Regions from separate parts of the Homo sapiens genome. Here regions 2 and 3 are each linked to region 1. Evidence: fine-mapped expression QTL. A gene starts in region 1. Each other region holds a variant in brackets. All regions are shown on one strand. Distances are between the middles of the regions.

Region 1 (10,585 bases):
TATATTAAAAAGAGATATGATAGACTGCCCAGCATTTTCGAAGGCCAAGGCAGGCGGATCACTTGAGGTCAGGAGTTAGAGACCAGCCTGGCCAACATGGTGAAACCCTGTCTCTACTAAAAATACAAAAATTAGCCAGGCATAATGGCACGTGCCGGTAGTCCCAGCTACTCAGAAGGCTGAGGCAGGAGAATCGCTTGAACCTGGGAGGCGGAGGTTGCAGTGAGCTGAGGTCAAGCCACTGCACTCCAGCCTGGGTGACAGAGCAAGACTCTGTCTCAAAAAAAAAAAAAGAAAGAGATATGATAGACTGTCAATCAGGCAGGTGGACAGACTGAAGATCAGATTGTACTTTTTTATAATGATCCGAAAGGATCACTTTTTAGTTTATGCAGTTTCGTATTGCTTGAGGTATATTACTTTTATAATTAAAAGTGAATGGTTTACCAGTTTCTCAAAAAGTTAACACATATCTACTACCTTATAACCCAGCAGCTCTAGTCCTAGAGAAAGGAAAATATATGTCCACAAAAACACTTGTACAGAAATATGCACATAGAAGCTTTATTAGTAATAGCTGCCCCCCAGCTGGAAACAACCCAAATGTCCATCAACAGCATGGATGAACGCATTGTGGAACATCCATACAATGGGAGACTACTCAGCGATAAAAAAAAAAATCAACTCCTGATATACTCAACAGCACAGATGGATCCCAGCAATGTGAGGCAGAAAAAAATGGACAAAAGAGTATACACTAAATAAGTCCATTTATATGAGGATTTAGACTGGCAAAACTAATTTATGGTGACAGAAATCAGAAAGTGGGCCTGGTATGGTGGGGCATGCCTGTAATCCCAGCACTCTGGGAGGCCCGCAAGGGTGGATCGTTTAAGCCTAGTAGTTTGACACCAGCCTGGCAACACAGCAAAACCCTGTCTCTACAAGAAATACAAAAGAAACTAGCCAGGTGTGGTGGCGTGCGCCTGTAGTCCCAGCTACTTGGGAAGTGAGGTGGGAGGATCATCTGAGACTGGGGAGGTCGAGGCTGCAGTAGAGATCATGCCACTGCACTCCAGCCTGGGAAACAGAATAAGACTCTGTCTCAAAAAAAAAAAAAAAGAAAAAGAAAACGGAGAAAGTGGCTGTCTTGTGAGGTGAGGAGCACAAGACAACTTTCTGAGGTGCTGGAAATGTTCTATATCTTGATTTGGGTGGTGGTTACACAGGTGTATACATTTGTCAAAACTCATCAAACCGTAACAGAATCTTTGCATATTACTGCATGTAAATCATAACTCAATTTAAAAAACATTTTTTAAAAATCATCTAAGGTGGGAGGATCGCTTGAGCTCAGGAGTTCAAGACCAGCCCAGGCAACATGGTGAAACCTCCTCCGTACAAAAAATACAAAAATTAGCCTGGAGTGGTGGTGCATGCCTGTAGTCCCAGCTACTTGGAAGGCTGAGGTGGGAGGATCACTTGAGCCCAGGAGATCGAGGCTGCAGTGAACTGTGATGGCACCACTGCACTCCAGCCTGGGCAACGAAGTCAGACCCTGTCTCAAAAAAAAAAACCACAAGAAAAACTTTAAAAATACAGATTCCCAGGCTCCATCCCCCTGGAGGTTCTGATTCAGTATGTCCAGGCTGGGCCTGGGAGTCTGAATATGTTTGTTTGTTTGTTTTTAAGTATCCCAGGCAATTCTGATACCTGACCACAGTTAGGGCAGCCCACCTGCCTCCCCCATCATTCCCTCCCCACTCTTTTGTTTCAGGTGGTTTATTATTTGTATGTTGGTTTTTCCAAGAGAAGGGTGGTTGGCCACACAACGCTGGAGCTTTAGAAACAGAACAGCAATTCCTCACTCTCTCTGCTTTCCCTCTCGTAACCCTAACTCCCACCCTTGGCATCAGCCTCTGCCCAGGTTTCCAAATGAAGCCTCTGACCAGGTAAGGCAGGAAAGGAAACTCCGCAGACCTGTCCAGGACTGGCATAACTCACCTAGAGACACTAGGGCTGTGTGCTCCAGGGAGGTCAAAGCCAGCAAGTTAATGGCCTGTGTACCGGTTAAATAGCATGTCCAGGCCTTCACCCCCATGTTTACAGAAAGAGTTCAGGGCAAGACTCATTGGTACAGAAAATGCTTAGTGGCTCGGTGACTCTCCGTCTCCTGGACCCCAGTTCCGTTCCTTACTCACCATCAGGGTTCTCCTGGGCTCCAGGCTTGACTGGCTTCTGCCCCACTATCCTTAAACCCAGTATGACTCCTGCTGCCATCAGGAGAAAGCCCAAACCCACTTACACAGCATTCAAGGCCCTCCGGCTGGCACGGTGGCTCACACCTATAATCAACACTTGGGAGGCTGAGGCGAGAAGATTGCCTGAGCCCAGGAGCTTGAGACCATCCTGGGCAACATAGTAAGACCCTGTCTCTATTTTTATATGTGAAAAAATAAAACGCCCCCCTCCCCACCATCTGGCTCCTATTCCTCTCTCCAGCTAGGACCCGGGGAACCTGTTCTACAAACATGCTTGGCTATTTCACGCCACTGTGCCCTTGTGGCTACTCTGCCCCCTGTGGAGAATGCCAGCCCATCCTGTTTCTCCACCCACAGACAATGGCAACTCCGACACTGTGTCCTCTAGGAAGCGAAAGTGCCTCCTGCCCACTACCCCACCCTCACTGCACACTCAGCTGCTCCTTGGGTCTTCTTCACTGTATCCTACGGATGGTAATGGCCATTGCAGTTACCACATGCTTCTACCTCTGGGACAGGAGCTCCTAGAAAGCCAACACTCTACCTTGAACCCAGTGCCAGCCCAGAGCTGACCTTAACCAAGGTCTATTAATCAACTAAATGAAGCACATTAAAAAAGCGCTCTCATTCTCACTTGAAGGCTTCCTTAGGCATTTCCAGATCCACAGCTCCTGCCCAGAACCCATAAATTCAAACGAACGCTCTGGCCAAGTTGGCAAACACAGGAAAATGAGATGCAGCCCCAAAGAATCTGACTCTTGCTCATGACCTTCTGCAGAAGTGGGGAATCAGCATGTACCTGCCAGGGTGGCCCTGGGATTTCAGGCCAACCCCAATTCCCAGGCAGACCCCCTCTGGCTGCAGCTAAGCTGCATTCTGGGGAGCCCTTATAATTTACTTCTCAGCTTTTTCTATATACGGGAATGTGTTCAATGACTCACAAGTTTCTTATCATTCAGGACTTTTGGAAAGACTTTCAGAGAAGTACACCTCCCAAATCCTTTGACAAACTGACAGGCGGACAAGTTCAGGTTAGAAAACAGAGTCCCCAGAGCCCGGACTGCCTTGTGGAGGGCTGACCCCTGCAGCAGAATGGGTAGCAGGGCTCAGGGGAAGGCACAAGGAAGGGAGAATGAGTAACTAGGGACAGAAGCAAGGTGCAAATGGGTCCCATAGGCTCACTTTCCTGCCCTAAGGACTGGGACACCTTTGTTCCTCATTTTCCCCAGGCCCCGGTTCAATTTCAACTCCCGAGGATATCAGTGACCAAAGCCCCATGGGGCCAAAACTCACAGCTGAGCTAGGGAAAACCTTTTGAAACTTAATTTTGTCCAGTCAAGGCAAAGTCCCTTAGGTGGCTCTCAGTTTGTCCATCTATAAAATGGGTACTGCTCACCAGGCCTCCAGACTCTGAAAAGCAGATGTGGTCCAATCACCACAGGTTGAGGTGACGGGAAGGAGGCAGGGGAGGATGATTGCAGCTGAGCCATGGGTTAGTACAAGGGTGTCCCCAAAGGACAAAGCCTCCAGAATGCACCTTGGCCCTTGCCATACACCACAGTGACCCAGGACCTCGTGACACCCTCTAATCAGCAGCTCTACAGCCGAGCCCGGCTTTACAGCTTACTACAAGCTTATTCAGCCTCATCTCCCTCAATCCCCTCAAGGACGTAGTGAGGCCGGCACTGGTGTCCTTGCTGCCCAGGCAGCCAAGCCGAGGCTCAAAGAAACCAAGGGAATCAACCAAGGTCACCCACCCATTAAAACAAAGCATAGGACTTAAATCAGTTCCCTGGGGACAAGCTCCTACCTCTGGTCCCTGGTTTACTCTATAACCAGTCTGCCCCACCCATTTTACAGGTAAGGAAACTGAGGCAGAAAAAGGGTTGCCCAAGGTCAACTGGGGGCTGAGCCAGGCCTAACACCTCCCACCATTCTACCAGTCCCACCCTGTTGGGGGTTCTTAGCCGTGCTAGGCCCCCTTTGGATCCTCTCCAACACCATCTTGATGAAATTCCTCCCCCACCCCACCTCCTCATGCCCACCCCACAATCCCTGGGTGACTCCCTGGTCGAGAGGGAGGCAGGTGGTTGCTAAGCACTCACCCGCTCTCTCTCTCATAAAAATAAACTCCTTCTGGCTAGGAGACTCTGGACAAGATCCCCTCCCTTCTAGCCAACAAAAAATTAAAAAGAAATTTTAAAAAGATCTCCTCAGTGACATTTACTTGAACGTCAGCTGTGCCAAAGCGGGGGCCAATTTAGTGAAGTCCAAATGGAGCCATGCGCCAGTAAACCTCAGCCCGAAGACCCTCCATTCAAGTGTCTGGGCAATTACTGAGCTGATTTATTTCCCCAGACAGGAAACGGGGGCCCAGGCTGCCTCCCAAGCTTTTGGGGCTGGTCCTGGGGATGCCGGGATCTGGCAGAGGCCCAACAGTGACCAAAATAGCCAGGCCGGTGGCCCTACCCGGCACACACCTCCCTGCCTGGGAGAGCTGCCCACAGGTCTCCTCTCCAGTCCAGGCTGAAGTCCAGGCTGAAGCTTTGAGGCTGTAGGAGGAGGTCCCTGGAATTCTCTCTGTGTGGCTTCCCTAGTGGGAGGGGGACGAGAATCTCCTACTCAAAAGAGGAACCCACAGAAGGAAGAGAAATAGTCTGGAGGGGGAAGTGTCCTGCTGGCCCTGCCGGCTGTCCACTACCCCTTGGCTGCCCCTCCGGGCCTTGGTCCCACCACTCAGGACTGCTGGACGCTGGCGCTGCCACCTGCACACCACCTATGGAGTGCATGCACCTATGGAGCCACGCTGCCCTATCACCTCTCCCCACTCAGCGCCGGCCCTGGAGAACCAGCTCTGGCCATTGGACCCTCTAGGCACCAGGGACACCCTCTTGGGTACAGCCGAGGACACACGAGTGCCCACAACCAGGGACCTGGAGACACAACCACACTCAGGGACACGCACGTGCACCTAGCCAGGGCCTGGAAGACGCAGCCCCCCACACACAGATTCATGCAGACACAAACGGGGACACACAAGAGCACACATCCAAAGACAGCACACTCAGGTATCACACACAGAGAGGCACACACACACAGCCCAGCACGCAGAGAATAACAGACATGCACCGGAACACACATGTGCACGCTGCTGGGGACACGGTGAAACAGTCACCCTCAGAAACACAGACACAGGGATACGGAGGCACATGTAGGCATCCTGACGGAGACAGGCACACAGATATGCCACACACACACACACACACACACACACACACACACACACACACACACTCTCCTGCCGCCCGCACCAAGAGCCGGAGCCCTTTTGCCGGGGAAACAATAACAGCCCCGCCAGCGGGACTGAGCAGGCGACTCTCGGTCCCTTCCGCGGTGGTGAAAGGGGCGCCGGATGGGCGCACGCGGAGGGGAGGAGGCCGGGACTGCGGCGACGCGGGGATGGGGAGGGGCTGCAGACGGCGGGCAGCGCCGGCTGCGCGCCCAGCTCCCGGTCCCTCCGGTACCTGGGGTGGCTGCGGCGCCGCCCGCGCTCTGCTCGGCTGTGCCGGGTTCCGCCGGCCGGGGGCTGCCTGCCCGCTCGCTCTCTGACCCGCTGGGTGAACGCTCCGCACTCCCTCTTGGCGCAGCTTGTCCTCTGGGCTTGCGGTCCTCGGGGCTCGGCGTTGGCGGCGGCGCGAAGGAAGCGGTAATTTATAAGCGGCTTCTTCCTGACCTCGCGTGTCTGTTGTCTGAGCAGGCAGCTCTCAGCATCACCCATCCTGCTGGGTGGAAAAATACCAGCTCGGCCGGGCCGGGGGCGGGGCCGGGGCGGGGCCGGGGCTTCCAGCCCCGCCCCAAGTGCGGACACACGCGCGCACACATACACATGCACACACATACACGCAAACACGCACGCGCGCATGGGCTCGGACACACAAAGAACCCGGGCTCGCCGAGCGCGCGCGCACACCCTCATGCCGCGCGGCGAACGTTCGTTGCCAGGTGCGGCAGCCCGCCCTGGGCGCCTCCTGCCTGCGGAAGAAGAGCAGGACAGACCCGACCCGACCCGCCTAGTCCTTTCCTTCACAGCAGCCTCCAAACTCCACCGCTCGCCTCTTCCGCCAGGCTCCTAGGATGAGGCCCAGGGCTCCTGGAGCAGCCAGGTGCAAACCAGACCGGGCTCGCACTCCACTGCGTTGCCCTGGGCGATCGTCCACGTTCTGGGAGACTCGGTATGCCCCGGGAGGGTGGCCTGAGCTTGTGGTGTGAAGCCAGGTACAGAGCTCCAGAATCCTGGCCTTGCCATGGCTGTGTGACCCTGGGCAAGTGACTCAATTTCTCTGCCTCAGTGTCCTCATCTATAAAATGGAAAGGAAAATAGTAGCGCTTGTCTCCTCCGGCTGTTATGAAGATCCAAGGTTAACAGCGTAGAGAACTCGGAACGCACCCGGCATCTAGGAAGTGCCAAGCCAGTGTCAGCTAATGTGACTATTTTTAAATGGAGATGGGGAGTGTGCCATTATTCTTGTCCTTATTTGAATGAACGGGCCCTCAGGGACCATTTTCCACTGCCCCGCCCTGGCAGCATGAGAGGGAAACGCTGTGAGAACCCCGAACCCCAGCCTTCTCCTGTCCCTCTCTCTCTCTCTCTCTCTCTGCACCTGGGAGGCGGGGAGGAGAGAGCCGATCCTTCCACCATTTACACGGAGAATGAAAGAAGAAATACCGGCCAGGCGCGGTGGCTCATGCCTGTAATCCCAGCACTTTGGGAGGCCGAGGGGGCAGATCACCTGAGGTCAGGAGTTCGAGACCAGCCTGGCCAACATGGCGAAACTCCGTCTCTACTAAAAGTACAAAAATTAGCCTGGCGTGGTGCCGGGTGCCTATAATCCCAGCTACTCAGGAGGCTGAGGCAGGAGAATCCCTTGAACCCGGGAGGCGGAGGTTGCAGTGAGCCGAGATCACGCCACTGCACTCCAGCCTGGGTGACAAGAATGAGTCTCAAAAAAACAAAAAAGAAGAAGAAGAAGAAATACCACACAGGTCCGACCAAGAGCTGCCCCCACTCAGGCCAGGATCCCTGCCTGGAAGGGCTCTGCAGCCACTCTCCCTGTACAGCCCCAGGATGCTAAGGAGCATCCCGAAGTGACACTGGCTCTCCCTGGAGGCCCCTGCCATCGGACTCCAACCTGACCTTCCAGTGGGTGCTCCTCATACTGGCTCCAGCCAAGACAGACGAGGACCACTGGGCACATGCCCTTCCTTGCCTTCCTGTCACCCTTCCCACCCTTCTCTGCGGGCCCCGGGTGGCCCCTTCCTCCAGGAAGCACCTGGGGATCAGCAGTGCCTCTAGGGTCCCAGTGGCCCACGTGACATCTGCTTCTGGCCACCTGAGCACTCTCCTTTGAGTTCAGGGTCACTGTACCCTTTTATAGGTGAGCAAACGAAAGCTGAGGAAGAGGAGTGACTGGGTCTCCCACATCCCTCTGCTTCAGCTATGAGGTTCCCTCATGAACTGCAGGAATAGACGTCAAGCAAAAACTCCTCAGACGCCCTGTGCATGTGTGGTCGCACAGGGCACAAAGACTGAAGCAAAGGGGCAGGTCCTAGCGTGGGGAGGGGACTCCAGGATTGAAGTTTGAACCAAAAGGAGGCTTTGACTAAGCCACGAGCAGTGAAGCCGGCAGGAGAGGAAGCAAGTTCTAGCAGAGGTGCCTGCCGTGCGAAGGCCTGAGAGCAAGGTTGTTGGTGGCAGGGCTGAGCTTGAGGGTCTGAGAGAGTGAGCAAGGGCAGTGGCTGTGGGAGGAGGGAAGAGTTGTGTGTTCAGAGCTGCAACTTGGAAAGGCCCATGGGATCCTTTGACCTCCAGGTAGGCCAGCGGAGCCTCATGCAGGTAGTGCCAGCGCAAGACACACGAGTGAACCATCTATCCAGTTACCAGCTCCATGAGGGATGGGATCTGTTCTTTTGCCTCCATCAACTCCTGGAGTCTATCATAGGCCTGACACACAGTAGGTACTCAATAAGTGTTTGCTGCATTTATTTTAACGTACTTTTCTTTTTTTTCTTTTAAAACGGAGTTTCGCTCTTGTTGCCCAGGCTGGAGTCCAATGGCGCAATCTCAGCTCACTGTAACCTCCGCTTCCTGGGTTCAAGTGATTCTCCTGCCTCAGCCCCGCTAGTAGCTGGCATTACAGGCATGCGCCACCACGCCTGGCTAATTTTGTGTTTTTAGTAGAGATGGGGTTTCTCCATGTTGATCAGGCTGGTCTCAAACTCCCAACCTCAGGTGATCTGCCTGCCTCGGCCTCCCAAAGTGCTGAGATTACAGGCGTGAGCCACCGTGCCTGGCTTTAACTTACTTTTCTTTGGCACTTAACTATGTACCCTGCACAGTTAAATGCATTTTAATAAGTTAACCCTTTTCATCCCGACAACACCCCTATGAGATTGGTACAATTATTTCTTCCGTTTTATAGAAGGTAAAACCGAGCCACAGAGAAGTTAAGTAACTTCCCCAAGGTCACTCAGCTGGCAGATAGTAGAGCTGGAATTCAAACCTAGGCCACCTGGCTCCAGAGGTTACAATCTTGAATGAGGGGATTCTGGGTGGGCGATTGCCAGACAAAAAAACCCAGCCCCAAGGAGAGAAAGGAGGAGAAGGAGGCAAGAAGAGCCCCAACCTCAGCCCCAGGGAGAGGTGGCAGATGAGGTGGAAAAGGGATGGTCAGACCGGAGAAGGGGCCAGGAGGAGCCAATGCCAAAGCTAGAGGCATGCACAGGGTGGAGAGAGCTCAGTGCGGGAGGCCACAGACCCTAGCTCCACCTCAGCCCTGTGGCTTCCCAGTTGTGTGACTTGGGCCTGCAGGCCTGCTCTCTGAGCCTCAGTTTCCTCATTGTAATATGAGATAAAATACACCCTGCCTCAATGAGCCATTCTGAGGAGAGGAGAAGTCTCGAACTGGAGGCCTTAAACCGAATCCAGCTCCCAGATGTGCTTCTTTGGCTGTCACTGAGCTTTAATGTGTTTGGAGTTAATTTTTATGAATAAAAGCTTGGAAGATTTCACATTTAAAAAATCTGGCCAGGCTGGGCAACAAAGTAAAATTCCATCTCTATGAAAATTTTTTTTAGAAATTCGCCGGGTATGGTGGTGCATGCCTATGGTCCCAGCTACTCAGGAGGCTGAGGCAGGAGGATCACTTGAGCCCGGGAGGTGAAGGCTGCGGTAAGCTATGACTACACCACTGCACTCCAGCCTAGGTGCGAGAGCAAGACCCTGTCTCCAAACAACAACAACAACAACAAAATCTGAATGCCTGGTTTATCTTGAAATATGGCAAAATGGGGCCACCCAGGCCCATTAACCCCCTGTCTACAATGTCCTGGAGCTGAGGGGCATTAGCCACCCTCTCACATGGGCTCCCCAGGGTGCCACAGCTCCCTCCTAGCTAGTTTGCTCTTTTCTGTCACCTACCGGCCCTTGCAGGGAGCTGAATTTGAGACCCATGATGCACTTTGTGCACCCTGCCCCCTCAAAGATAACTGTGAGTACCAAGGGAAATGGAAAGCTTTGGCAACAAGAAGGGAGCTTCAAGGAAAGCCAGGCCGAGGTTCCCCTCAGAACCATAGACTAGCCTGAAATTCCACTGGGACTAATTCTTCTCATTTCAAGAATGAAAATCGATTGCTGGACAGAGCTCCCGGAGGGCCAATTTTCAGGCTGTAGTCTACAGCCGTCCACGTAGAGGCAGTGAACGAAATTTTTCAAAGCCTACTTTATGATTACTTTCTTTAGCAGCTCTCAACAGTAAAATAAAATTGATCTAGGACTTTGAACAAAACTTCTCGCCCCTTTCTAGGGAAGAGTTTGTCTCGTCTATCAGGCCACCAACAAGAGTTGTTGCAATGCCTGTGGGAGGTGCAGCCCACGCTGGGCCACCTGGCCAGCTCAGGGATCCTGCTGGAGATCGAGGATTGTCTGGTCGGCCTCTTACAACTCTCAGAACATCATCCCTGGGAGCAGCCCTGAAGAGACCAAGGGTCAGTGGCGGGGCTGCTGAGTGGCTGCCTCCCTGACCTGGCCAGCATTTCCTGGGCACACTGCAGTGTGTCCACGTCCCTGGGTGTGTAGGTGGCTGCAGAGCCTTGTCAGAGCATCTGGGCCTTCAGGGATCTGCTTCCTGCCCACTACCCTCCTCTTGCCTGCCTGCAAATCTCAGCTCCATCCCTCATGGGCTGTGTGACCTAGAGTGAATAATGTGACCTCTCTGTGCCTTGGTTTCTTGATTTGTACAGCCTGATTAATCATAACCCCTCTCCTG
Region 2 (10,585 bases), 66 kb before region 1:
TGGTTTAGATGGTAAATGTGTGGTCACCCCAAACACACGCACACACAGAAGCCTGCCATGAGGACCGGCACCCAGGGAACACCTCTTACGGCAGAGGGCTCTGATCCTGTCACAGTGCTGGCAGTGGGTGAGGCACACTGCTGGCATCTGCAAAACCTTCCCCATTTCCCCAAGTTCACAAAGCAAAGAGATGCAAAGGAGGAAGCCCCACCTGTGCGATCAGATTCCCATCCTGGTTCCCTGGGACATGGGGCCTGGGAGACCAGTGACTTAGGTTCGATTTCTACCCTTGTCCCTGGCAGGTCATCTAACTGCTCTGAGCCTTGAGTTCCTCGCTCTGCAAAGTAGGAGGAGTGGCTGTGAGAGCCCACCAGATTCTCTCCGTGTGCCACTGACACGGGGCCTCCCTGAGAGATGCGTGTCCTCCACCAGGCCCCACTTCCTGGGGAGAAAATCTAATGAGTGACCACCTCCACCTGCTCAGGGAGCCGTTTCCAAAGCCCAAGTGGCCTATTTTGGGCCCATGAAGATGTCATGCCTTGTCATTTATTAACCTCTGTTTTTGTTTTTTTCTTTCACTTAGAGCTCTGGAAGAAGTTATAAAAGCCATTTGCTTGGGGCCTCTGAAGGCCAAACTCATTAACTAGGAATGATTAATGGAGTCCTCCTGCTTGTTTATTCAGCTCAAGTCTATCAACAACTGCAGAAGTATTTTGTTTTCCGTCTCCCTGATGTTTTCGTTCTGTCTTCTCTGCTAATCCTGCCCCCTTCTCTGCCAAATCCCCTGCTCTGCTCTTGACCTTGCTGGCTGGCCGCCTCCTCTCCCTGGACTCACCCTCCTCTGCTTGACCTTCAGAGACTTTTCCCCTACCAGGTTCTGGGGACCCACTTGGGACAATGACTCTGAAGACTTCGGCCCGCGGGGAGGGGGACAAAGGGTTCTCCCGCCCTGGCTGCAAGCTCCAACCTCTCAGGGGGTCTCAGTTGCTCAAAGGCTTCCCAAGAGGCATTCAGACCTCCAGACCCAGACTACACAGTCTACATCCTACCTGCTTCTCAGTGGCCCATGTGCATGGCGCTGCCTGAGGGGCTCATGCTGGGCTGGGCACACAACCAGCCTGTCCCACATGCCATAAATCCCTACTCCTGGAGTCATGCCTGTGCTCTGAACTGTTGTTTCAACAAGACCCTGTCAAAAATACACCTATTTCCAGGGAAAGGGGCCCAGGAGCTCAAGTGAATTGTCCTCCGAGCACTGCTGACTACCCCACACTAGGCACTGGCTACTCTACAGCCAGATGCAGCCACTCATCGGCTCTCACTGGCATTCCCTGGCCATGAGTCACCTTCTAGTGGAGGCCTGAGCCCTGAAGGGGTGGGATACGGGGTTTAGAAGTGCAGGAAAGAACCTCAGTGGAGACAGGAGTCCTGCCTTGGGAGGGGAGAAGCCAGGACAGCCAGAGGTCAGGGCGGGTTTGAGCGAGGCTCCCGGCCTGTGCGGTGTATAAAGCACGGGAGGGAGCCAATGCCCAGCCCCTCGCACGCTCCAGGGAGCACAGAATCCTGAGTGTGGCGTAGGCTTCTCCTGGGCACTTGCAACTTATTACGATGGCCCAGACAATGATCAGCTCACACAGAAATGTGGGTCCCTTCTCCGAATCGCCCATCTGCCATGTCCTCCTGTGCCCCGCCGACGCTCCACTGGAGCACATCATGACTTATTGAGTCATGACCTCCAATTCGTCATTTGTGGCTTGACTGTAACCACAAACCCTGGTTGTCCCTGTCATAACCCACCCACTCCGAGAACCTCTGGATGCCCCTCTGCTAGCAGATAATGTGCCATGCCACGTCTTGTTTGCACTCCATTAGGCTAAATAATTATCTTGTTCAAATGCACTTTCTGGGGACGCAGAGCTTTTTCTATTCCTGGTGTCCTGGAGGAACCCTCACAGCTGAAGCACTGGAAGTCTGACTGGAGGGGGGAAGGGGGTTGACCACCTCCCAGGTGGAATAAGGAGTCTTTCCCAGAGTCAGGTTCCCCACAGGGGCAGTCGCCCCAGGGCCATCCCTTATACGCACCTGGCTATCCAGTCCAAGCAAGAGAAGCATAATAAAAAAAAGAATGGACCAAAATGTGGGCAGCGGCATCATTGTCACAGCTTTTGGGTAGGCAATGAAGGCCAGGCCAGGACCTAGAAAGGAAAGAAAACGGGGAGGGGCACAGGGGAGGAGACATCAGCCACCAAGCCACTGGGAACCCTGGGCTCACACAAAGACACTCAGACCCAAATACAGCAGGGAGCCAGGTCTGAACTCTGGCCTGGGGAAAGAGACCAGGCCTGTCTCGCCTTTGGGTGGGACACGCTGGGGCTCAGGAGGGGCCCGGTTTTAGCATCTGTCTCCTACACAGCACACGTGGCCTCCTCACACACCAGCATCCATCGGGGCGTGGTTATTTGGGGTAGGATGCAGACTGAGCCCAGGGCTTGGTCTGCAGAGACAAAGGAAAGGGAGGATCCTCCCACCCCAAAGCAAAGCCATTGAGTGGACAGCCTTTGCTGGAAGGAGGCGGGGGAGCGTGGTGGTGACCTGACCGCCCAGTCTCCTTTGCAAAGGGAAAGTTTCTATTTTTGAGTTAATGGCTAAAACACCATAGGAGTGGAAAGAAAAACCAATACAAAACCACGCCCAACAGGAGGCCTGTCTCTTCAGGGGTGCATTTGTGGGGCTCTCCCTGGCAAGGTCAGAGCCAAGCCCATGAGGTCAAGGTTGGGCCAACCAGGGCCCAAAGCTGAGGGAACATGGGTGCAGGGGCAAGGTCCCAGGCCTGCAAGCCCTGAGGCCTGCATCCAAGTCATCCTCTTCCAATTTCCTTTTTGAATCACCCCATACCCTCTCAGGGCCTCAGTTTCCCCACCTGAAAAGTGAGGGGCAGGTGGCCATAAATGACTCACAAGGAGCCTTCCTGTGTTTAGATTCTCAGAGGTAGACACCATGTCACTAGAAAAGGGCTCTGGGTTTCAAAAGAAGGGACTTGGATAGAACCTGAGGGAGAGCTGGGGAGATGGGAGCTCTGTCAGCTCAGGGGATGTCTCTGATGGGAGACATTCCGGAGACAGAGAGAAATGTCTCCTCCTGTCTCCAGCCTGCCTGAAAGCGGATGCCAACGGAAATAATTTAATTGTTAACTGAGACCTGTGGGTCTGAGAAGCGAGGGCAGCAAAAGAAAGTAAAATCTACAACTAAAAAAAAAAAAAAAAAAAAAAGTCAAGAAGCAGGAAACAAAAAGGGCCAGAGCAGGAGCTGTTCAGCAGGGATTAGAAACCAGACGAATGGCTCAAGAATGAAAAACAAAAAGCAAAACCCAACTTTACAATAAATTGGAACCAGAAACCACATTATACGGTGTTAACACCCCCAGTGTGCCAGGGAAGGGTGTGTCCTTTTACAATCCAGAGAAAACCTGACCAAAATATATCCTTGGGCAGCGACAGAGTGGTTGCTCGCTGAGATGCTGGAGACCCCCATCAGGAGCGGGGGTTACCAAGCCCAAAACTGCTCAGAACATGCCCAAAAGAACCAGGGCCAGGTTCAGAAAAATATGGACCCCAGGACCCGGTGAGATGACTTTTGAATCAAAGTTGAAGTTGGAGTCAAAAGCCGCGGCGTTTCCACCCAGACCGGGGCCCCACTGGTCCCTACAGAACATCAGCGTTGGCCCTGACTGGTCCACACTGAATGAGGAATCGAGTCCAGCCAGCTGCAAGACAGATGCAAAATGGGCCCCCACAACCCCCAACCCACCAGGGACGTTGTGAAGATTCTCAATTCGCTCGTTTCTGTATTTTAGTTTTGCCTTTCTCAAGCGAGCCTCTGGGAGAGGGTCTGAGCGTCTTTCTCTAAAAGTGCATGGTGAACTCAAGAGAGAGAAGTCCAGGAGACATAATCCAGCCACTCCGAGAACCTCTGGATGCCTCTCTGCTAGCAGACAATGTGCCATGCCACGTCTTGTTTGCACTCTGTTAGGCTAAATAATTATCTTGTTCAAATGCACTTCACTCAATATGGTGCTTGTTAAAAGCTTATTAGAGAAATAATCACCCTTGATGTGCCGGCTGTTCAGACATCACCGTGGGGAATAAATGACAAGGTGTTTGAAGTGGACGGGAGGAAAAAACAACTGAGATTGACAATATATGTGTCTACGAAAATACTTCGTTGTCCATGGAGGAAGATACATTGTATGTATCTATCTGTATCTCCCATTGCCAAATTCACTCCATACTCCTGGAGATTCCCACTCAATTGCGATTGGTTTGCAAGCCCTCAGCTGAAAGCAAGCCATCTACAGAGGAGGTATAAATCATCTCTGGCTCCCCCTCACCACTCTAATTGCCAAACTCCCTAAGGGGCGTGGGGACTTCTGGAGTTACATTCTGTGTCCTCAGTCTCTGGCCTGCTTTTGGGGGCTCTTTGGGCTCAGTGGAGGGAACAGTACATCTGAGGGTCCACTTTGGAAGCAGGGACAGTGGAGAGGTGTGTGGGGGTGACATGTGGATTTGCCAAGGGGGTCCTGCAGTGTTGTCAGGGGTCTCAGGATGGGGCTGGGCAGTGTGCATCTCTGCCAAGCAAAGAAGACAGTGAGGAGGGGCCAGGGGCTCTGGGAGGTCACAAGGGCCAAATTCTCACACTGGAAGGGCCAGAGGTTGTTGCATGTGTCCAGGGTGGGCTGGATGGCAGGAGGGGGACACCCTTGTGTCAGAAGGCCTGTCCAGCGTGTGACAAGTGGAGAAATAGTGGACAGGATGTTCAGAAAGCCCTGTTGTAGCCCCACCTATCCCAAGCAAAGCCCTTGCTCTCAGGTTGCTGGTCTCCTCATCTGAGAAGGGAACATCTGGACACGCGATGCTGAGGCACCTTCTGACCCCCCAGTGCTAGGGCTCTAGGACTCAGGGACTGGGACATCGCCTCATGTTCCAAATACAGATGGCACAGGAGGTCAAGGGCAGTGGAATGGCAGGGCCTCCGGCTGTGTCTGGCCCTAGTCTATGGTGGTCCCTGAAGTTAATAACCCCCACGCTCTCCCTTCGGCTTGGAAGGAGCCTCAGCCCAGGACCTTGCCACCTCCAGGTAGCCCCAGGGAAGTTGTATGAAATTAGGACATGGACGGGGTGGGGCTGGGGGCTCAGCATGTAAAATAACAAAACCAACTGATGACCACCCTCCAAGTAAACTGTGCAGGGCCGGGGAAGGGTGGAGAGGTCGGAAAGGTGGACTTTGAGGATCCTGGGAGCCTGAGGGAATCCCATAACCCAAGCCACTGCAATTAAAGCTACAGACCCAGGACCTCAAGCAGCCATGGCCAAGTCCCAGAATCGAGGCACCTGAGAGATTGCAGATTCTAGCAACTGAAGGCCCCATGATTCTCAGGTTCCAGAAGCACCTTGCTGGAACTCTGGGATCCCAGATTCCTAAGTTCCCCGTCTGTGCAGAGTCCGTGATTCTAAGCCACTGGCATCCTCCATGCCTGTGACTCCAGGTAGCCCGAGGAAGAGTGCCTGGTCAACAGGGCCCACACCCCGAGGGGCGACACTGTGCTTACAACCCACCCCCAGTTGGATCTGCCACCGTCCCAGTAGGTCGTCCCCTCATCTACGCCCTCCCCCCACACACTGCACCCAGTGCCTACGGTGGTGCCTGACACAGAGTTGGGACTCATTCACGAGAAATCGGTGGGATGGATGAATGCGTCTGCTTAGAGGGAGCACGCTGGGAGCAAAGTGCAAAATACAGAAACCAAGGCTGAGAAGGTGGTGATGGAATGCCGATTGGTGGCTGACTTGGGCCTGAGTTAGGAAAGTGGTTTCTATTGTGGAAACCAGGAGTTTGCTGGGGAAGGACGGGGGGGCGGGGAAGACCACACTAAGGTAGCTAAAAATTCCCCAACTTAACCACCCCCCATGCTTTTGCCACCCATCAGGGCCAAATTGCAATACAAATGTTTAAAATTTGGCTTTGTACTCTTTGAAATTTGGGGGA[T/C]ATCTTGGTGGCGGGGGGGGGGTCCATTTTAGAAACCAGGCTCGTCCCCCCTCAAAGCCCCCTGGGGTCTGGCTTCATGCCTGCAGTACTTGGCTTACACACTAGGTGGCAGTGCCCACCACCACTGCCACCGATACCACCGTACCTGACTCAGCCACATCAGCAATGTCCACCCCTTGCTCTTGTGCCATGAAGCCCAGGATGGAAAAAATTGCGAAGCCAGACACAAAACTGGTACCACTGTTCAGGCATCCCAGCAGCATACAGTCCCTAAGTTACACATATGTCAGGGAGCAAGTTAATTCACAACACAAGGAAGCCACGCTCCCTACTTCTCTTTTTCTTTAAACATCATCATCATCATTTCTAAAGTCCACCAGGCCCGCCGGCGCAACACTTGCCTGTACGAGTTATACTTGTACTTGTTGTAGCTCCCCAGCGAGGTCATAGCCCCCAGGCAGATGGCATAAGAGAAGAATATCTGAGTCCCAGCGTCAATCCACACCTATGAGGGGGAGGGAGGTGGCAAGGAAAGAGAGGAGGGCTGTCAGAGCTGGCTTCCTGGAGGAGGCAGCGAGGGTTATGTCCACCTGGCGATGGCCTGGGGACGGGACCTTGCACATGCAAATGGAACATTTATGCTCGAATCCAAGGTGCCTTTCAAGGCAGTACTGAGCTGCAAGGAGCCCCAGAAATCAAACACCCCACCTCCCAGCGACCTAGCATCAGGGTTAAGAGGATTCAGAAGCAGATGGATCTGGATTCCAACCCTGGAATGACAGTGGGCAAGTAAATATCACTCCTGCAGTTTATAGATAGTTTTCACATCTATAAAATGGGCTCCTTTGCCCTACCCCATAGAGCTATTTCCCAGGTTCAAAGAGTGGCGATTCAGCCCAGTGCCAGTTACATGGCAAGCCCGTAAGTCAAGGCTGCTGTCACCACCATTGTTGTTACTGTTTGCAGACCCCCGAGTTAGAATGCAGAAGGAGGTCCCAAGGAACTATGCAGGCAAAGCTGCTCTCCAGAATCTTCACTAAGCAGCTCGTTCCCAGCTGTCCTCCAAGGCTGGCCAACCCCTCTCACAACTGTGTCCTGTCCAGGGGGAAGGGTGGTGGGGAAGGAGAGCACAGGCCCTTGGGAAGCAACCGGAAGGCCCTGGGGATTCAGGTCCTCAAACAAACCCAGAAAATCTCCCAGGGCTTTCTCCACCTCCCCAAGGTCACAAGGCTGAGTGCCAGAAGGTGTGCTTTCGGTATCTGCCCGTGGACCCTCCAAGGCCATTAACTCTGAATTCCACCCTCAGCCAAGGAAGCCCGCAGCTCTCCAGGCCCCGACTCTCCCATCCCCAGGATGCAGCAGCCCTTGTGGCTGCAGTGGGCAGAAGCTGGGTCCGAGCGGGAGACTTGCTCATCAGAAGATTTCTCCCCCTTGGTGCAGGGCCTAAAGCAGCCTCTCTAAGTGGCCACCCTCAGACGTCCTTGACATGAAAAGAGATGCACACAGCTAGAAAGGTCCATCAGCACCGTGGACAGGCACACCCGCCACAGGCCCGGTGGAAAAGTACCAGGGGGCGGTGGCCCAGCTAGACCTGTGCACTGAAGAACCACGGAAGATGTGCTGCCAGTGGCCTCTACATCCTGCCCTGTCCTGTGCCGGCCCAGCCCTGGATGGGAGGGAGGATGGTGTGTCCCAGCCCCACAGTACCTGTGGGTCCTCAAGGCGGGTGATGTCAGGATACAGATAGAACTTGATGCCTGCGCCCGCGCCCGGCAGCGTCAGCCCTCGGACCAGCAGCACCAGGAGCATGGCGAATGGAAAAGTGGCTGTGAAGTAGACGACCTGCAAGGGCGAGAGGGATTCAGGAGGCCATGGGCATCACTTGCTGCTGCTAAGTCTGAGCATCCTCTCAGAGAGGCAGAGGGGAGCACTGGTCAGGATCAGGAGTTCTGGAGCCAGGTTTGCTGTCTTACTTGCTGTGCGGCCTTTGGCACATTGCTTAACCACTCTGGGTCTCAGCTGCCTCATCTGTAATCTGGGTATATACAGGTACCTACCTCACAGATTTCTTTTTTTTTTTTTTTTTTTTTTTAAATTTGAGACGGAGCCTCGCTGTCACCCAGGCTGGAGTGCAATGGCACGATCTCGGCTCACTGCAACCTCCGCCTCCTGGGTTCAAGTGATTCTCCTGGCTCAGCCTCTCGAGTAGCTGGGATTACGGGTGCCCACCACCATGCCCAGCTAATTCTTGTATTTTTAGTAGAGATGGGGTTTCACCAGGTTGGCCAGGCTGGTCTCAAACTCCTGGCCTCAAATGATCCACCTGCCTCAGCCTCCCAAAGTGCTGGGATTATAGGCATGAGCCACAGCGCCAGCCCACCTCACAGATTTACTGAGATTAAATGAAAAACATCCTATAAATAGTTTGTCCCAGGCACCATCTAAGCACAAAATACAGTGGTGGATAAGACAGAAAACAAATCCCTGCCTTCGTGGAACTGACATTCCAGGGCGTAGAGGTGGAAAAAGCAAAATCAGAGAGTAAGCTATCAAGTGCGTGTGTAGAAGCCTCAGCCCAGTGGTTGCCAACCATGGCATGTGCCCATTGCATGCAGGTCATATTAGTTAACAACTAACTACAATGTTGGTATGATTCCTATGGTTAGGGATCAGATAAGCAAGGGTTCAAATCCCAGCTCCGTCCCCTCATTTGCTGTGTGATCTTAGGCACATTGCTTAACCTCTCTGGACCTGTTTCCTCATGAGTAGAATTCAGATAAGAGTAATAGAAGCCCCTCAACAAGGGGTGAGCTGAGGATTCAATAGGATGATGCTTGTAACACTGCCACTCAGTAGGTGCTCCAGAAAGAGGGCCTGTTGTTGACACTGATTTTGCTGGAAGGACGAGACCTTCAGGGAAGAAAATGAGGCCTCTCAAAGGCCCTTAACTGGGAATAGGAAAGGCTCCCCGCTTCACCGGGCCTCTGGGAGACCCATGGCCTTCCCTGGGTCACACTGCATGTTCCAGACAGGCCAAGATCAGGTGTGAGGTGGGGACTAGAAACGATGTGGCCATCTCCTCCCAAAGACCTTCTCTCCTCTTGTCCTGCAAGCGCTGTTTGTGGCTTCAGTTCTCATGGATGGATTTTCCCATCTTATTCAACACAAGGAGTTTCCAGACAGAGATTATGCCTGGGAGGAGTTCGAAGGTGCCTGGCTGAATGGACAGTTCGATCCTAGTGTTTCAGGCAGGGCACTGGCTGAGTAGGAACGTCCCAGGCACAAGCCCACTTCATCCTCACCATGCCCCCCAGGACGGTGGTTTACAGTGGAGAAACTGAGGCTTGGTGGGCTTTAAGGACGTGCCCAGGGCATCAACGGAATCCAGGATTTGAACCCAGAGCCTGTGGAGGGCTAACCTCTGTGCAGAAAGGCATGAAGTGTTTTACTTCGACATGCAGAAAGTTCATGGTGGCCACCTTGAAACATTGAGACTGGTTGGCAGAGCCCTGGGCCGCATCTGGGGATCAGGGGACCTTGGAGGAACCACTGCACAGTCAATGCACCCATTTTACAGGAGAGGAAACTGAGATGAAGAGAACAGGACAAATGTGCCCATGGAGTTGGGGGTGCAGTGCCAGGGCACTGCTGGGGCCCAAGTATGTAACAGACACTGACCAATAGTGACAGAGCCCCAAACCTCACCTAGCTGGCACCACGACCCTCGACAGAGCAAATTCTTGTGGCCATGATCCCTTTGAGTAGAAACAATGAGAAAGGGGCTTTGGAAAAGGGCAAAAAGGAAGCTTTCAGGGCCTGCTTAGCTCAGCTGCCCTCAGCCCAACAACCCCTAGGCAGCGTTTATTGAGCACTTACTGTGTGCCTAGCACTGTTCCAAATGCTGTGACGTCTATTTTCACTGGCCCGTGCCCTAACCCTCTGAGGTAAGTTGTATTACTATCTCCATTTTGCAACAATAAAACTGAGGCCCAGAGAGAGTCCATCACTTGCCCAGGGTCACGTGGGCTTAAGCAACAGAATGGGGACCTGCCCCACAGCCCACACATAGCAGACCAGCAAAAAGCCTCCCACAACTGGCAGTTTACTGATTCTCCCCAAGACCAGAGGGCAGCCAGTAGGGAGGCCCTCAGGTCTGAAGCCAAGCTTAGAGGCTGGCTTGCCATGAGACCTCCAGGAAGCCGCTGTCCGCTCTAGACTGTTTCCCCACCAGGAAGTAAAGGGCTGGGACCGTAGGAGCTCTGAGGTTGCCTCCCACTCTGCCACTCTAGGTCGAGGGGTAGAGAGGCTGTGGGTCAGCTGGGGAGCCACCTCTACCAGGGGTTGCACGCTGCCTCTGCCACCCCTTGCTGGTGACCTGGGCCTCAGCTTCCCCATCTGTCCACTGAGGATAAGGGAACGCTGACCTTGCTCGATGGCCCCTGGCCTGCGGTGAGCATTCAAGAAGCCTCTTTGGCCGGCACTGTCAGGATGGCTCTCCGACACTGACAGGCTGGGCCCTACTGCTGCCTCTGCCCCCGGGCGT
Region 3 (10,585 bases), 84 kb before region 1:
GCTCTTCCATTTGAGGGAACAGATGAGGAGTCAAGAGGTCTGTTCTTTTCACCCTGGGTCTGTTACCTGTTTGCTGTGTGACCCTGTCTGGGTTGGACCCCCAGCCCCTCTGGACGATCACGGGTGGACAGTCTGAGCAGACACAGGCCTCCTGGTCAGGGCCGGAACCATCTCTGCCGACCCACCAAGGCCCCCTTGGGGACCTGCCCACGCTGTCTCCTGGAGGCCTGCCTCCCTTACCCCTCCCCTCCACTTCGCTGGGCTCTGCCCCTTGGTGCCCTCCCTGAGGGCCCTGCATGCTTGTGCCTGGGGTGCTCAGCGCCTCTGCTATCTTGGATTCCCGTGTACTCAGCCCAGAGTGAAAGGGCACTGTCTACCTGTCACAGGGCACCAAGTGAAAGCCAAGAGCCCTCACTTTTGAGGGTGAGGGACAGCACAGCAGAGGTGTGGCTTCTGGATGCAAGCAGCCATAGCTGTGTGACCTTGGACAGGTGGCTCAGCCTCTCTGGACCTCTGCTAAGCAACAGGGCTGGACAGGACACACTCTCAGGGCCTCTCGGCTTGGGAAAACTGCATTGACTCCAGGACTCCAGGCGAGGGAAGATGCACCCGACTCTAACTAATACCCCCCTCCCTCCTCGGGCTGAGGCCTCTGCCATTCTCCCAAAAGTATGCAATCAGGCCCGCGGTGGGCCTCCCAGCCATGCCGGCCTCCTCATATGCAATATTTCTTCTGGCTTCTCATGGGGATGGTTCATCCCCGACTTGAAATTTCCTGACACCTTTCCCCAGTGAGCGCCCTGCCTGCCTATGCATTTTGGGAACAGCCCCTGTGACATGTCCCCTTCCACCTGCCCTCTCCCCCAAAGCTGTATTTTTCTCTGGCTGAGATTAGAACACATTCCTTGTAAAGTATTTTTCTACATCGGGTTTTCTTAGGGCTCTCGGGAAGCACAAGGGGCTGTATTGCAAAGGCCGCTTATGGTCTGTTTGGGGCCCTCGTCTAAGTCTTTGTCCCACCAGGGGTTGCAGTGGCTTGGGGGTAGGTGCCATGGGGATGATTTTTTAAAATAAAATTATTTAAATCCACCTAGAGTAGAAGTTTGCTTTTTAAAAAAATCATGGATTGGCAAGAGTCAGCTTCTGTATGGGTCTGGTGACATCTCACCTGCTTTTGATGATTCATTAATTCAAAAAGTTTGCCATTTGCTTCCATCATCCAGCCCCTGGGCAACATGAATCAGACAGATTTAGGTCATGTCTGCACATTCTGGTGGCAGGCAGACAATCAACAAGTAAGCAAATAAATAATTATTTCAAAAGGCATCAAGTGCAACAAAGAAAACAAGGGAGTAACGGGATAGAGGGACCAGGGTGAGGGGCTTTAGCTCACAATATTAGGAGGGGTTTCTCTCAAGAGGCGACATTTGCAATGAGACCTGAAGACAGGAGCCAGCCTCCATGGAGACCTGGAGGAAGAGTGTCTCAGGCAGCGGGCACAGCTAGTGCAAAGGCCCTGAGATAGGAACGAGTTTGACGGTCTCAAGGAAGAGAAAGAAGGCCTGGGAGGGGAATGGGGCTGGAGACTAGGTTGGAGGTAGCAGGAATCAGTCGTGAAGGCTTGGGTAGGGGGAGCAAATTTGATTCTCTGCGCAGCAGAAAGCCAGAGGCAGGCAGTGGTGCCTGCATATGGAGTCTCTTTAGCCCAGGTTGGGAAGGTAGTGGCAGGAGGGCAGCCTCAGGTCTGGCTGCTGCCCTGGAGTGTCCAGAGAGTGTCTAGGGCAGGTGAGCTACAGGGTCTGGGACCCAGAGGCCAGGGCCAGGCCCCACTGGGGAGGCCACAGTTCTGTGAGCAGAGGAAGAGCTTCTTTCCAGGAAGCGAGTACTCTGTCTTGGGAGTGGTGTAGGCAGGGGGAAGGCCAAGGGAGGCAGCAGGCCTTGCTCTAAGCGCTTTGCAAGAGCTTGCTGGATCCTCCCAATAGCCTTTGGAGGTGGGCTCTATTCCTGTCCCATCATTACAGATGAGGAAACAGGCACAGAGAGGTTACGTAATTTGCCCAAGTCCACACAGGTAGTAAGGGATGGAACCAGGGCTTGAACACAAGCCACATGGCCCAGTACACATAGAGAGAGGCAGGCAGGTAGGCATAGGCTGTCAGAAAGAGCCAGAAAATGGGGGTAGGGTGGTCTTCTATTCTAACATTGTCTATAAATGAGTTACTGAGAATTTTGTCTGGTTAGTTGGGCAAAGGGCTCAACTGACTCCCGAGTTTGTCCATCCCAAAGGGTGGGGGGCGCTGTTGGCAGGAAGGCTGCCCCAAACATGGACCTGTTGTGACCCCAGAGAGCCCCTAACTGGGTATTAATGAGCGCCTGCACCTGACGGTGGGGGAGTGGGAGAAGGGCAATCAGGTTTGCTCCCCCTCTACCCTTTCCCCCACTCCGCCACCCGCTTTCTGCCCTTCTGGCAGGTCAGCCCAAGGCTAAAGAGGAGGGACTGAAAGCCGCAGCAGGTGAGCACCTAAGGCCAAGAGCATCACCTCCAATCATCCTGGTGGCCTTGATGGGGACAATGGTTTATTCCAGATGGGGAAACTGAGGCTCAGGTGACTGCTGCCAGATCTCCCAGCTGTACAGGGCTGGGCATGTAGCAGGTAGAATCAGTAGAGCCAGTAGAGCCAAGAGCTCATGGGCCCGGGTGCGAATCCAGGTTCTTTCATGGACTTGCTGTGTACCCCTGAGTGAGCAAGCTGCTTCCTCTGTGAGCCTCCATGTGGGAACCTCTAACCTGGGAAAATACCTACCTTTGAGGAGCGTCCTGGGATTGGACGGGAAGCCCTTTATAAAATGTAAAGCGTTTGGCAAACGTTGAGGGGGAAATACCTCACCAGAACACAACCCACACATGTTGGATGTTAAAAAGGAAATGTTTATTTTCATGTTATAAGGTGATTACAAACTCCTCTAAAAAAAGCAAAGATGAATTTAAAATATTGATATACATATTTATCTAAAAAGCAAAAGAGAAAAAAACCCCTGCAAAA[T/C]ACAGGGAATCATATCATAAAACATTTATACACAAAAGCTTGTATACTGCAAGACTGAACTACACACCAAGGATCTTGTTCAAATACAAATGTTCCTCCTCAGAAAAGTCTCTTGTTGGTTGATTTTTTTTTTATAAAAGTTTAAAATATCTTAAAAATATTTTGAAGTTTTAAAAAAATGTCCTGATGAGCCAGACATATTTCTGGAAGGAGGCAAGACCCACATTCTCAGCTTTCTCTTGTGCTAAATACAGAGTCACAGTTGCTAGGGATTGGGAGATTAATTGGGTAAAAAAAAAAAATGAAGCCAACATCTCAATTTGAAGTCAAATATATAACAGGATGCTCCATCCCTCGGAGAACACGCCAGAACATGTCTGTAGTGACACCCACAAGAGAACAATGCAAAAATGCTTCCTATTACAACAATATATATTCTGAGGATCAGGGAGAGAAGGAAAGGGGGAGGGCTGCCCCCTGCTTTCTGGACTGCCCACCTCTACAAGTTTGGCTCTCTGGGTTTGTTTTGTTTAGTCTTGTGGTTTTGTACTTCGATTTTTGCACACAGTGGTATTTACCGTGTCCCAGGCAGCCTGGCCTGGGACCACATGGGTCTGAGGGAGGGATGGGACCTCAGGCCACCTTGAAGGATTTTCTCTTGGGTCCTTTCCTGGCTTGTGTCTGAATCTTGGGTGGGGTGGGCTGCGGGGAGCAGTTAGGTGCCTCTGCCTTTAGACTGGCTACCCAGAGCATTTCCCCAGGGAGAGGGGCTGTGCTGGGAGATGCTGGCTGGGTGGGGGACCAGTGTGGCGGTACCCGGGTGATACAAGAGTGCCCTGAAGTGGGCTGGAGGGGCCATGCTGTGCTCTCCCCTTGTGTTTCCCCACTGTCTTTGGGGGTATGCTGGGGATCCAGGGGGCAGTGAAGGAGCTGCACATGGCCCAGGGGTTATGCTGTCCTGGAAGGAGAGCATCCAAGGCCACTTCCTGCTGCCTGGAAACTCCCCGCAGAGCCTCGGGGTCAGTCTGGAGCCAGGGCGACTTCATCTAAATCCTGCCTAAGGATCTGGCACACCTCTGGCTTCTCTGCACCTCAGTTCCCTCTTTCACAAACAGGGATCTCAATTCCTAGCTCACCAAGGGCTGCTGGGAGGAAGGAGGGCCCCGTGCAGGGCTGGGGTGTGCAGGTGAGGCTGGAGTCACCCAGCTCACGGAGCCACCGCATGGGTCCAGGAATTCTGTGAGGATGGTGGGAGTGTGGCTGCTGCTGCTCCCCTCATCCCTGAACATGGAGGGGAGCGCATTTCCTTTTCCATAAAGGCTTGTCTTTGGTTGTCAGGAAGACCTTGAGGATGTTGCTGGATGTAGCCCTGGTTAGACACTCACCATTCCCTGCACCTACCTCGGAGAACCTGCAGCTAGAGCTGTTTCAAGAAAATCCATTCCTGGCTCACAGTGCCTCCCTGAGCCTCAGTTACCTCATTTACAACAAGGGCGTTGGGTTAGGGGACCCTGGAGGCCCTTCTCTCCCTGACCGTCAGGAAATCTCTGTGGCCCTAGCATGGCCCATCTCAACGCAGTGTCTCCCACTTCTTCATCTTAAAAAATTGATTTAAACAACCCCCTCGCTTCCTTTCCAGATCTGGCTGGCTGGGCTATGTGCGGGCATCAGCATTTCTGACCCATCCCAAGCAGAAAGCAGGTGAAGGACTTTGCCCATTCTCTATAGACAGGTGGACCAGAGTCATGAGCTCTCATGGAAAGTTTCGTTTATACGGAGACATGAAGGTTGAGCATTATTACACAGGTACTCGCAGAGCTATGCTCTGCACACAGAGCCAGGGCTGGCTGGGCGAGAGGGCTCTGATTGGAGACAGGTGCCTTGGGGAGAGTTGAGGAACGACTTCCTTCCAGGCGGGGCCTGGGGACTTGGTCTGCCTGTGTCTTTGGTCTAGAATTTGGTCTGAGAATCTTATAAGAAGAGGCCTTCCTCAGGCCATGTCCAGAATGTTGCAATTTGCCTACCAACCCAAAATACTGTGGCCTTTCACCCAGGGAGCCCCCGCTGGGGAGATGGAAACTGAAATGACCACAAATGCCCAGGTAGCCACTGCGTGCCAAGTCCCCTCTTCCCCACGTGCCACCTGCCCTCAATCATTGACAGTGGTTAGTTTACTAAAGTTATATAAGACAAAGGAAAACAGGTCACAATGCTACTCCATAAAATCAGGGAAAAAACAGTAAAATCAAATCAGACACAAACGGCAACCATAAATACATAGAAAAACAGGAACAAGATAGAATCGTTGAGAGTTTGGAATAGGACTGGGTGTTGTTTGGCAGAGTAGATAGCTTTGGAAACAGTGAAATATGTATGCCTGCCAAAGATGGGGTTCAGAATTGCCCCTTGGGAGGGGGACACCAAAGGCATACTCCTCCTCCCAAATTTAAGAAGGGGGTTTCCAGGGTTCCAAGAGCCCCTGCTGTGAAAATTCTGCGGTCTGCACCCCTCGAGGCAGTGACTGCCTTTGTGCGTGGTCACGTTTCGGTTTCATTTAGACTGAGCTTGGAAGTGACTGTTCAAATGGCACAGTTTAGGTCCAAATAGGGGCTGGGTGGGGGTGTGTCTGCCCTGGGGATTTGAAAGGTATAGTACCTTCTCTCCTGGTTCAGAGACAACCTCTGCTCCACATAAGGCCCTTGATCAAGCCAGTTCTGAGGGGCCAGGACCCTGACAATCCCAACCTTCTAGAAAACTCTCCTAGGCCTTCTCTTTTGGGTCCGCAGGTGGTAAATGTCTGTAAACCCAGCTATTGCAGGGGTTTTGAAGTGAAGAGCTTTGTTATATCCTAGGTCAGCACCACGGGCTGCCCTTGTTCTGAACTGGGAGCACTTCCCCCAGTGGAGGATACAGACTCAAAAGCTGTTCTTGGTGTGCCTTGCTAGGTGCCAGGGCAGCCCAGGGTGGCATCTTTAATGAGGGCTTGGCAGGAGTCTCCCAGGCTGAGAGTGGGGAGTGGGGAGATGAGGAAAGAAAGCACCCCTCCCCGACACCGGGCCCATCTGCATGCCTGGGGCCTATATCCTTTGGTCCACTCACCTCCCCACCACTCCCCTAGTCCCTCAACAGGTATGTCATGCTTCATTCCTGCAGGCAACTTTAAGAGATGCTGAGATGTTGCTTGGGGAATGACCAGAACCTGCTATGACCCCATTCAAATGCAACAGACTCATCTGAGCCCTGAGACCCCAGCTCCTGCCGGGAGAGCCTCTGCTCCTTCTCTGCCTGGAATGCCCCAGGAAGGACTGTGGCCTCCTGTGCCTCTGCCACCTCTTGCGAGGCTGAGTTGTGAGCCTCACTCCTGCCAGCCTTCTTGGATCTCTAGCAGCTCCCTCTCTGGCCAGTGGTTCTGACGGTCTACTGACTATCCACTCACCATCTCAAAATTAAAAGTGGGATTTTGCTTCTGGTACAAGTTTCTACTGCTCTTAGAATCAGACTTCTGCTATAGGGCCTCCTCATTCAGCTTCAGCCAGTCTCCTTTATGTGAAGGGTTGGTTCATTCCTTTGGCATCTCTCTTCTTCACTAAGCCAAGTTTAATGAGGTATCTCCTCACAGCCCTCCTTTCTTCCCCCTGGGTCTGCCAGCTAATGGGTCCTCTCTCCTGCTATTTCTTCCATCTGAACCAGGATTTGGAAGGTATACCACCTTAAGATGGGTGTAGAGTCCCAGGAAAATTCCATCCTGCGTTTACTGGACAGAACTTTCTGCCAGCTACACAGCACCGAAGAATTGCTTTTGAAAATGAGATCTATTGCTGGCAAGAAGATCAATTCAAGTGGTAAAAGTATATGACAATCTCTAAGTGTATATATACTTATATGTAAAAAAAAAAATACAAAGAAAAATTTACCAAATTCCCATAAAATACATCTAATTCAGTATGAAAGCTCTGCCTCTCCACGGACATCTTCCCGTGGGTTTTCTTTTTGTACAAAATATCCCCCAAATCAAAACAAAACACACACACACGATACACACACACACACACACGCACGCACACATACCCACAATTACATTTTCTGTGACAATTACAAAAAAAAAAAAATCCTAGTGCAAATATAAAGCTCTGTAAACCTGGTCCTATGAGAATCTAATGTTAGTAAACAGCAGGAAAGCCGCCGGCCCCGTCGACCCGAGAGAGCTCACATCATGGTCTCCACAATGATGTGGGTCGGTTTCACGAGAGCGCCGTTCATGACGGTGCGAGAGTTGTAAGGTGTGGCTCCCTCGCGCTCCACAGCCCAGCGGTTGGGTTCCCTTGGGGTCAGCAGGTACTTGACTCTCTGGAGAAGGATGACAGGAGTGAGGGGGGAAACGTCAGGCGGCCTGGTCTCCCCTTCGCCAGGGCCATCTGCCTCCTCCTGAATTGGCTCATGTGCTGTTTGGTTTTTGGTAAACTCACACCCTCTCTGATCTCCTGTTTTTGTCCTTTTTGGAAATAATGGAATTGAACTAAGGCGCTCCTAAGGTGCCACTAGGCCCTGACTCAAGGCGGAATTCCTGTTGGTGGTTTCCTTCCTTGGCCAAACCCCTGCTTACGTTCCTACAGGGATGGGGGACTCAACCTTCATGTGCTTTTTTTCTTCTATGGAACTAAAATATGCCTCCCTGTGATTCTCTCCCTCTGATTTCTCTGCCTTGCAAAGCAGCAGTTGAGTTCCTCTCATTTGTATGCCCTGAGTTGGACAACTGTCTTCAGCCTCCATGGCTCCCACCTTCCCCAAGGAGAAACTCCAAACTCCTCAGCCTCCCATAAGCTACACTTCCTGCCTTCTTGCAGAGACAGGTCTTCCCTAGTTTCCTGAAGGCATCCAGTCCTCCCAGCAGGGTTTACATCTTAAGGGCTTGGAGAACCTTGCTCGCATTTGAGCTGCCCTTCCAAGAGATAGGAGCTGCATGGGAATTCTAGATCACTCCTGAGCAGGGTGAGTTTTGTCCTCACAGTTGGTTGAGTGTCCCTCTCCAAGGATACCCAGAAAATCCATGTCAGAACTGGGACTCAACCAGACTCCCACTCCCCAGTCCACCTCTTGCCAACTGTCAACTCAGAGACTTGAATAGGCCAGCAGTTGAAAGACAAACAAACAAAACAACAAGCCCTCTTTCTAGGCATTTATATTCAACTTAGGTATGTTACAAATTTTTAAAAGCTGCTTATTAAAAGCTACAGTATTTCATTTAAAAACCCAGTTTTCGGTAATCCCAGCACTTTGGGAAGCAGGAGGATCGCTCAAGGTCAGGATTTAAAGGCAGTCTGGGCAACACAGTGAGACCCTAACTCTTAAAAAAAAAAATTAAAAATTAGCCAGGCATGGTGGTACGTGCCTGTAGTCCAAGTTACTCGGGAGGCTGAGGAAAGAAGATTGCTTGAGCCCAGGAATTTGAGGCTGTGATTGAGCCACTGCACTCCAGCCTGGGCAAAGGAGCAAGACCCTGTCTCTATTTTTTTTGTTTTTAAATCCAGTTTTCCATCTTTTCTTGAAAAGCTGCAAGATCTGGCAACTCCAGGCCCAGGTCCCCTCCTTGTAGCACCTTCTCCAGTTTGCTCCCAGCCCTACCCCCATGACTTCCCTCACCTGAGCCACCTGCCAGCTCTCCCTCCATCACTTTGCCTCTCCACATCCATACAATGGGCTGTGCCTGGGAGGGCGGAGGAGAGTCAAACCCCCAGGCAGCCACTTGGGGCTCTGCCTACACAGGAGGCTCAGGCAGAGCTGGAACCATCCTGGGACAGAGATCTGGGTTTGCCAGAACCTGGCTCAGAGAGAAGCTCATGGCTGGGAGGACACCTTGATGACTTGTGCAGGTGGGAGCCCCTGAGGGGCACATAAAGAAAGACAGACAGATGGTGGCTCAACTGCCTTCACAGGGGCCTTTGGTGAAGTCAGACTGGCACAGGAGGACGGGGTACCAGTGTGGGGTGAAGCCTGCCCTCACCCACTCCCCCACCTCTTTCCCCCATGCCAACCCCACTCCACCCAAACTTCTAAATGTGGGCTGGACCAATATTTTAAAATGAGGCTTTGAAGGACACCAAGTTAGTGACCTGTTGGGTGTCCCCCTGAACCAATGGTATGTAATTGCTTTGGGCACTCACCAATCAGAGCAGAGACCCCTAGACCAATCAGAACCTTTAGAGACCCCTTGCTGTGCCCTAATGAACCCTTTGGCTTCTGGACAGTAAGGACATTCTGGAAACTCTGGTTGGGTTGGCCTGGAGTATTGTGGGGTCACCTGGAGGGCTCGGGACAGTCACTGTTCCCTGCCTGTCCCCAGGCCCAGTATTTCAGTCTGTTAACAGCTCATAGGGCCATTTAGCGTTCTGGCTAAAGACTGGTTGGGGTGCTGCCCTCTGTCCTCTGAAAAAATAGAATGGGTCAAAAGCTCCAGGATAACCCCAGGGGCCCCCCCAGTTTCAAGGATTTCCTCCTGCCCTGCCAGCTTCCTCAGTCTCCCCTCCCTCCCCTGCCACCAGCACCACCTCCAGGCCATTCCCCTGCCCAGGAGGAAACAGGACCCAGCCCAGCAGGGAGCCAGGGCCCCAGGACATCCTGGCTCCAGATTTTTAAAAGAGAATAACAATAAAAACAGCCCAGAACAAAACAGTGCACTCTTGGAGCCAGCCCAAGCTCAAAAGGTTAAGGGAGATTCTGAGAAAAGAATTTCTTGGAAAGAGTAGGGCCTTTGCCAGGGCCTGGGATCTCCAGGGCTGTTGGAGGAATTTCTGAGAGGAGGCTGAAGGTAGGTGGGGCCAGGGGAGGCCCCAGCAGGCACAGAGGCAGAGGTCTGGCTGCCGCCACAGATCCGGAGAAGACCCCAGCATGGGCTGGGATGATCCTAAATTTGGCTCCTCAATAAAAGAAGGCATCTGGGTGGGGCTCAGGCTTCCTCCCTAGGCTCCTGGCTTTGTCCCACCGCTTCAGGAACATGGCCCCACTGGTCCCAGGATAAAGCCCCAGCTCTTAGCTTGGCATCCAAAGCTACAGTCACCTCTCCAGCCTCACTGCCCACCCCAACTCTGCCAACACCAGGAACACCTTCCCTCTCACATTCTCCATCTGGCAAGTTCCTCCTCACCCCACAGCCCGGCTTCCAATGTCTCCATAAAGCCTTCTCCCATGTGAACTCTACTTGCTTCCCGTCTTCCCACAATGCACTCTGCTGCCCATAAGCTGAACCACTGGATGGGTGAGGGAACTATGGCTCAGAGAGGGCAGGTGACTTGCCTGAGATCACGCAGCAAACTGACAACAATCACCTTTGGCCTCGCGCCTCCCACCTCCCCTGGCCCTGGGCCCAAGCACTTACCACAAGGAACGGCCCCTCAGTCTGGCAGAGGCGGATGACGATGACCAAGGGAACGCAGAGCATGGAGGAAAGGGCCAGGCTCCAGCCCAGCCCAATGGCCCAGTTGGGGTACACGTATGTTTTGTTGTAGGTCAGGGGTACGTACTTGACGAGCGAGAAGATGAAACAT

Evidence for each region.
Region 2: its variant is fine-mapped to the expression of SLC6A6 in whole blood (TOPMed, PIP above 0.99).
Region 3: its variant is fine-mapped to the expression of SLC6A6 in monocytes after interferon gamma (Fairfax 2014, PIP 0.95).

The regions. Positions count from the first base shown.
Region 1 is chr3:14,398,048-14,408,632 of GRCh38, reverse strand. SLC6A6 (solute carrier family 6 member 6) reads right to left here and starts at 6,027. Exons shown (of 15, transcript NM_003043.6): 1 at 5,786-6,027. LOC105376959 (a long non-coding RNA gene) reads left to right here and starts at 6,226. Exons shown (of 8, transcript XR_007095825.1): 1 at 6,226-7,972; 2 at 9,396-9,489; 3 at 10,124-10,304. RefSeq lists silencers at 2,259-2,429, 5,704-6,233 and enhancers at 4,844-4,923, 4,994-5,053, 6,374-6,543, 6,554-6,603.
Region 2 is chr3:14,463,815-14,474,399 of GRCh38, reverse strand. SLC6A6 (solute carrier family 6 member 6) reads right to left here. Exons shown (of 15, transcript NM_003043.6): 7 at 7,750-7,884; 8 at 6,444-6,547; 9 at 6,188-6,312; 10 at 2,083-2,195. Among named protein-coding and RNA genes, the nearest start is that of SLC6A6, 67 kb to the right of the region's middle. RefSeq lists an enhancer at 1,486-2,377. The variant T/C (reference allele first, on the strand shown) is at 6,043.
Region 3 is chr3:14,481,673-14,492,257 of GRCh38, reverse strand. SLC6A6 (solute carrier family 6 member 6) reads right to left here. Exons shown (of 15, transcript NM_003043.6): 14 at 10,417-10,585; 15 at 2,909-7,391. The coding sequence ends at 7,251. It overlaps GRIP2 (glutamate receptor interacting protein 2), which reads left to right. Exons shown (of 24, transcript NM_001080423.4): 24 at 1-3,151. Among named protein-coding and RNA genes, the nearest start is that of GRIP2, 53 kb to the left of the region's middle. The variant T/C (reference allele first, on the strand shown) is at 3,045.